2 linked regions of the Homo sapiens genome follow. The protein of the gene in region 2 interacts with the protein of the main gene of each other region in a pairwise test. Each region holds a gene or a part of one and is shown on either strand. Other genes may lie near its edges.

Evidence for each region.
Region 1: the proteins of SULT1A4 (region 2) and SHMT1 interact in binary tests that used the Homo sapiens proteins (3 or more experiments, as listed by UniProt).

The regions. Positions count from the first base shown.
Region 1 is NC_000017.11:18,356,834-18,360,587, reverse strand, and holds part of SHMT1 (serine hydroxymethyltransferase, cytosolic), read left to right. Parts: intron 1-35; exon of another isoform or gene 36-174; intron 175-3,754. UniProt on the Homo sapiens protein: Interconversion of serine and glycine.
Region 2 is NC_000016.10:29,462,864-29,465,571, forward strand, and holds the end of SULT1A4 (sulfotransferase 1A4), read left to right. Parts: intron 1-481; coding exon 482-608; intron 609-703; coding exon 704-798; intron 799-1,296; coding exon 1,297-1,477; intron 1,478-1,599; coding exon 1,600-1,712; 3' UTR 1,713-2,103; downstream 2,104-2,708. UniProt on the Homo sapiens protein: Sulfotransferase that utilizes 3'-phospho-5'-adenylyl sulfate (PAPS) as sulfonate donor to catalyze the sulfate conjugation of phenolic monoamines (neurotransmitters such as dopamine, (R)-adrenaline/epinephrine, (R)-noradrenaline/norepinephrine and serotonin) and phenolic and catechol drugs.

The DNA.
Region 1 (3,754 bases), on a different chromosome or scaffold from region 2:
TTTCTTTTCTTTTCTTTTTTTTTTTTTTGAGACAGGGTCTTGTTCTCTTGGCCAGGCTGGAGTGCTGTGGGAAAATCTGGGCTCACTGCAGCCTCAACCTCCGGGACTCAAGTGATCATCCTGCCTCAGCCACCCAGAGTAGCTGAGAATACAGGCGTGCGCCACCAGGCTCGGGTAATTTTTTGTATTTTTTTTTAGAGACAGGGTTTTGCCATGTTGCCTAGGCTGGTCTTGAACGCCTGGGCTCAAGTGATCTTCTCGTCTCAGCCTCTCAGAGTTCTGGGATTACAAGTGTAAGCAACCATGCCTGGCCTTGTGTATTTCTTTTTGGTTTTTTTTGTGATGGAGTCTTGCTCTGTCACCCAGGCTGGAGTGCAATGGTATGATCTCGGCTCACTGCAACCTCCACCTCCTGGGTTCAAGCGATTTTCCTACCTCAGCCTCCCGCATAGCTGGTATTACAGGGGCCCACCACTATGCCCATCTAATTTTTGTATTTTTTAGTAGAGACGGGGTTTCGCTGTGTTGGCCAGGCTGGTCTCGAACTCCTGACCTCAGGTGATCCGCCCGCCTTGGCCTCCCAAAGTGCTGGGGTTACAGGTGTGAGCCACTGTGCCTGGCCAAATAATTTTTTTTTTTTTTTAAGATAGAGTCTTGCTTTGTTGCCAGGCTGCGGTGCAGTGGTGTGATCTCTGCTCACTACAGTCTCCGCCTCCTGGGTTCAAGCCATTCTTCTGCCTCAGCCTCCTGAGTAGCTGGAATTACAGGCGGGCGCCACCACACCCAGCTAATTTTAGTATTTTTAGTGGAGATGGGGTTTCACCATGTTGGCCAGGACAGTCTTGATTTCCTGACCTTGTGGTCTGCCCGCCTTGGCCTCCCAAAGTGCTGGGATTACAGGCGTGAACCACTGCACCTGGCCTTTTTTTTTTTATTGAGACACAGTCTCACTCTGTCACCCAGACTGGAGTGCAGTGGCACAATCTCGGCTCACTGCAGCCTCCACCTCTGAGGCTCAAGTAAGTCTCATGCCTCAGGTGTGTGCCACCACACCCAATTAATTTTTTATATTTTTGCTATAGACAGGGTTTCACCATGTTAGCCAGGCTGGTCTCAAACTCCTGGCCTCAAGTTGATCTGCCCACCTCAGCCTTCCAAAGTGCTGGGATTACAGATGTGAGCCACCTTGCCCAGCCTAATTTCTAAATTTTTGTAGAGACGTGGTTTCACTGTGTTGCCTAGGCTGTGGTTGAACTCCTAGGCTCAAAGGATCCTCCTGCCTTGACTCCCCTAAGTGCTGGGATTACAGGCATAAGCCACCATACCAGGCCCTTTTTTTTTTTTCCCCTGGAGACAGAGTCTTGCTTTGTCACCCAGGCTAGAGTGCAGTGGTGTGATCTCGGCTCACTACAACTTCCGCCTCCCGGGTTCAAGCGATTCTCCTGCCTCAGCCTCCCAAGTAGCTGGGGTTACAGGTGCCTGCCACCACACCTGGGTAATTTTTGTATTTTTAGTCATGTTGGCCAGGCTGGTCTCGAACTTATGACCTCATGATCCGCACGCCTTGGCCTCCCAAAGTGCTGGGATTACAGGCATGAGCCACTGGGCCCAGCCCAACCTGTAATTCTTTAGGAAGATTTATATTCAAACAAGTCCTTTTTTTATTTAAAAGAAAAAAACACACACACACAGGGTCTTACTCTGTCACCCAGGCTGGAATGCACTGCCACAATCACGGCTCATTGCAACCTCTAGCTTCCAGGCTCAGGTGATCCTCCCACCTCAGCCTCCTGAATAGCTGGGACTACAGATGCATGCCACCACGACCAGCTAATAATTTGTATTTTTTGTAGAAATGGGGCTTTGCCATGTTGCCCAGGCCAGTCTTGAACTCCTGGGCTCAAGTGATCCTCCTGCCTCAGCCTCCCAAAGTGCTGGAATTACAGGCATGAACCACCACACCCAGCCCAAGTACATATTTTAACTAACAGCTTCACAGGAACTCTGTGGATTACTTAGAGCATGTGCTTTGGGGTTTCGAGTCCTGCCTCTGTGGCTAACTTTCTGTGCAGCCCTGGGCTAAGATATTTTACTTTTCTTTGAGACAGAGTCTCGCTCTGTTGCCAGCCTGGAGTGCAGTGGTGATCTTGGCTCACTGCAACCTCTGACTCCCAGGTTCAAGTGATTCTCCTGCCTCAGCCTCCCGAGTAGCTGGGATTACAGGCGTGAGCCACTACGCCCGGCTAATTTTTGTATTTTTAGTAGAGATGGGGTTTCACCGTGTAGGCCAGGATGGTCTCGATCTCCTGACCTCCTGATCCGCCCACCTCGGCCTCCCAAAGTACTGGGATTACAGGCATGAGCCACTGCGCCCAGCCACAATATTTCACTTTTCTAACGTCGTTTTTCTTTCTTTAGTTCTTTTTTTTTTTTTTTTAAGAGTCCTAGCCCAGGCTGGGCGCGGTGGCTCACACCTGTAATCCCAGCACTTTGGGAGGCCGAGACCATCCTGGCTAACCGGTGAAACCCCATCTCTACTGAAAAAATAAAAAAAAAATTAGCCAGGCATGGTGGTGGGTGCCTGTGTTCCTGGCTACTTGGGAGGCTGAGGCAGGAGAATGGCATGAACCCGGGAGGTGGAGCTTGCAGTGAGCCGAGATCGCGCCACTGTACTCCAGCCTGGGCGACAGAGTGAGACTCTGTCTCAAAAAAAAAAAAAAAAAGAGTCCTAGCTCAGTAGGTAGGACTATAGGCCCATCCCACCATGCCCAGCTAACTTTTTTTTTTGTAGCAATGCCCAGGCTGGTCTTGAACTCCTGGCCTCCCAAAGTGCTGGGGTTACAGGTGTGAGTTGCCATGCCTGGCCCTGAGCCTCAATTTCATTACTTGAAGTATGAAATAAATTAACACATTAAAGTGTTGCTAGGATTAAAATGAGGTCCTTATGTATTCAAAAATCGTACAGAGATTTTTGAGGCCCTTCTTATAGCAAAACTCCCATTTACATTTTTCTGGAGCCTGGAGAAATGTGTCCAGACTGAGTGAATAGGTGCTATTTGCTGTACTTACATTATCATTTATAAAATACTACTGGTGGTCATCCTGGAAAGATGATCCCAACTGCCTATATCCTGTTCATCATTAACTTGTGTGTCCCAAAAAATCTTTTGAAAAGTTGCTAAATAGTGAATATTTACTATTTTATGAGGGCCTGCCAGTTCCCTGCCAGTGGAATTGTTTCAAGTCAATGATTCATCTGTTCAGTCATTTGGAAAATACTCTTTTTTTTTTTTTTTTTTTTTTTTTTTGAGGTGGAGTCTTGCTCTATGGCCAGGCTGGAGTGCAGTGGTGTGATCTCGGCTCACTGCAAGCTCTGCCTCCCAGATTCAAGAGATTCTCCTGCCTCAGCCTCCCAAGTAGCTGGGACTACAGGCATGTGCCACAACGTCCAGCTCATTTTTTGTATTTTTAGTAGAGATGGGGTTTCACCAGGTTGGCCAGGATGGTCTCCAACTCCAGATCTTGTGATCTGCCCACCTCGGCCTCCCAAAGTGCTGGGATTGCAGGCGTGAGCCACCGTGCCCGGCCGGAAAATATTCTTCATGTATAGCAGTGTTGGGTACCGCAGGAGATTTTTTAAAAAGTAGCACTCAGTCCTTACCTTCAAGGAACTTAGTTTAGTTGTGGGAGATAAGCTATATCCATGAGAAGTTTGGCTGAGAGGAGGCGGAGTTGGGCTCCCTGCAGGTGGGGA
Region 2 (2,708 bases):
ACTCCTGACCTCAGGTGATCTGGCCACCTTGGCCTCCCAAAGTGCCGGGATTAGAGGCATGAGCCACCACGCCCAGCCTTCATCACATCTTGAGAGAGGACACTGTCTGCCTCTTGCTCTGATGAGGGTCTGATGCAAGGATAGTGAGTCTCTACAGTGCACACTTAAGAAAGGCAGCATGTGGGTGCTCACAGGTCAGCGGAGGAGGGGGAGCTGGTGGGGACCAGGCATGCCTTGCTCCAGATCAGGATATGATGGCATTGGTGCAGATTATATTAGTATAGAATATGGTCTCAGGAACCAGGCAGGACTTTGGCTTCCGAGCAGGGTTCAGATCCCAGCTTGGCCCTACCTGTGCAGTGAGATCTCAAGCAAGTCAGCCTCTAAGCCTCAGGTTCCTCCTTTGCCAGTTCAACAGATGAGCTGGCCTGGGGTGGGCTGTGTGGTGATGGTGCTGGGGCTGGGTCCTCTGCCCCTGCAGGTGGTCTATGTTGCCCGAAACCCAAAGGACGTGGCGGTCTCCTACTACCATTTCCACCGTATGGAAAAGGCGCACCCTGAGCCTGGGACCTGGGACAGCTTCCTGGAAAAGTTCATGGCTGGAGAAGGTGGGCTTGACTGGAGGAAGGAGGGTGTGAAGCCGAGGGGTGGTGGCTATAACGTACAGCAACCCTGTGTCGGTGCCCCCTGCCCGCTTCTCTAGTGTCCTACGGGTCCTGGTACCAGCACGTGCAGGAGTGGTGGGAGCTGAGCCGCACCCACCCTGTTCTCTACCTCTTCTATGAAGACATGAAGGAGGTGAGACCGACTGTGATGCTTCCCCCCATGTGACACCTGGGGGCAGGCACCTCACAGGGACCCACCAAGGCCACCCAGCCCCGTCCCTGGGCGGCTCCCACAGCAAGCCCGGATTCCCCATCCTACCTCCCTGGCCCAGGCCCCCCCACTGCAGCCCCACCTGGCAGCAGGCTCGGCACAGCTTTCATCTTCTGCACCTGAGTCAGCTGCATGGGTGGCCACGGATCAGATACTTAGTCCTATTGCTTATCCTCACCAAAGGGTGTGCCACCCAGGGCCACAGTCATGGAAGAAGACCATCCCGGTCCTCACCCATAGGCGCCAAGCCCTGTTCATGATGGGATCACAGGGCAGAGATCAATTCATTTTACTCCAGAGACTAGGGCCCCAGGGGTTGAGGCTCTTTGGGGTTTCTAGGGGAAGTGGCCAGATCCCCTCTGAGGTTAGAGAGGGGGACCCGTTTTGTTTTGCTCCACTGAGGAGCCCTCTGCTGCTCAGAACCCCAAAAGGGAGATTCAAAAGATCCTGGAGTTTGTGGGGCGCTCCCTGCCAGAGGAGACCATGGACTTCATGGTTCAGCACACGTCGTTCAAGGAGATGAAGAAGAACCCTATGACCAACTACACCACCGTCCCCCAGGAGCTCATGGACCACAGCATCTCCCCCTTCATGAGGAAAGGTGGGTGCTGGCCAGCACGGGGGTTTGGGGCGGGTGGGAGCAGCAGCTGCAGCCTCCCCATAGGCACTTGGGGCCTCCCCTGGGATGAGACTCCAGCTTTGCTCCCTGCCTTCCTCCCCCAGGCATGGCTGGGGACTGGAAGACCACCTTCACCGTGGCGCAGAATGAGCGCTTCGATGCGGACTATGCGGAGAAGATGGCAGGCTGCAGCCTCAGCTTCCGCTCTGAGCTGTGAGAGGGGCTCCTGGAGTCACTGCAGAGGGAGTGTGCGAATCTACCCTGACCAATGGGCTCAAGAATAAAGTATGATTTTTGAGTCAGGCACAGTGGCTCATGTCTGCAATCCCAGCGATTTGGGAGGTTGAGCTGGTAGGATCACAATAGGCCACGAATTTGAGACCAGCCTGGTAAAATAGTGAGACCTCATCTCTACAAAGATGTAAAAAAATTAGCCACATGTGCTGGCACTTACCTGTAGTCCCAGCTACTTGGGAAGCAGAGGCTGGAGGATCATTTCAGCCCAGGAGGTTGTGGATACAGTGAGTTATGACATGCCCATTCACTACAGCCTGGATGACAAGCAAGACCCTCCCTCCAAAGAAAATAAAGCTCAAAATAAAATATGATTTGTGTTCATGTAGAGCCTGTATTGGAAAGGAAGAGAAACTCTGAGCTGAAAGAGTGAATGCCCGGTGGGGCCACATATGGTCACCTCTCCCCCAGCCTTCAGCTCCCCAGGTCACCATATCTGGGGAGGGGAGAAGGGTTTGGAGAAGTAAAACCCAGGAGATGTGTGGAGGGGGGATGTCTGTTTAATCCCAGCACATCCTCTGCTGTCCTGCCCCAAGATGGTGGAGGACGTCGAGTCCGCCGGGCAGCGTCACTTTTTCTTGGGCTCCTTAGAAGCTACCAGGTACCTCTGGGCCACACTGAGATGAGGGGAGTAGCCGTCTGCATAGGAGGTGTCTTCAAACAGGATAGAATAGTCCTCCTGGGGCTGTGGGGCAGGTGGACAGGAAGGGCAGAGAGCAGCCCCGGGGCTGGTGTCACTCACTTGTTGGTGGCATGGCTGTAACTGACCACCTCGGCCAGGATCCACTGCTCATCCCCATCCACGGCCTTCACCCGGGCAGCCACCTTGTCTCCAGGTCTGGCCACGTAGTCTCCTGAGGCAGGGATGGCCCCACAGAGGGGTGGGGGCCTGTGAGTGGAACAAAGGATCAGTCCCAGC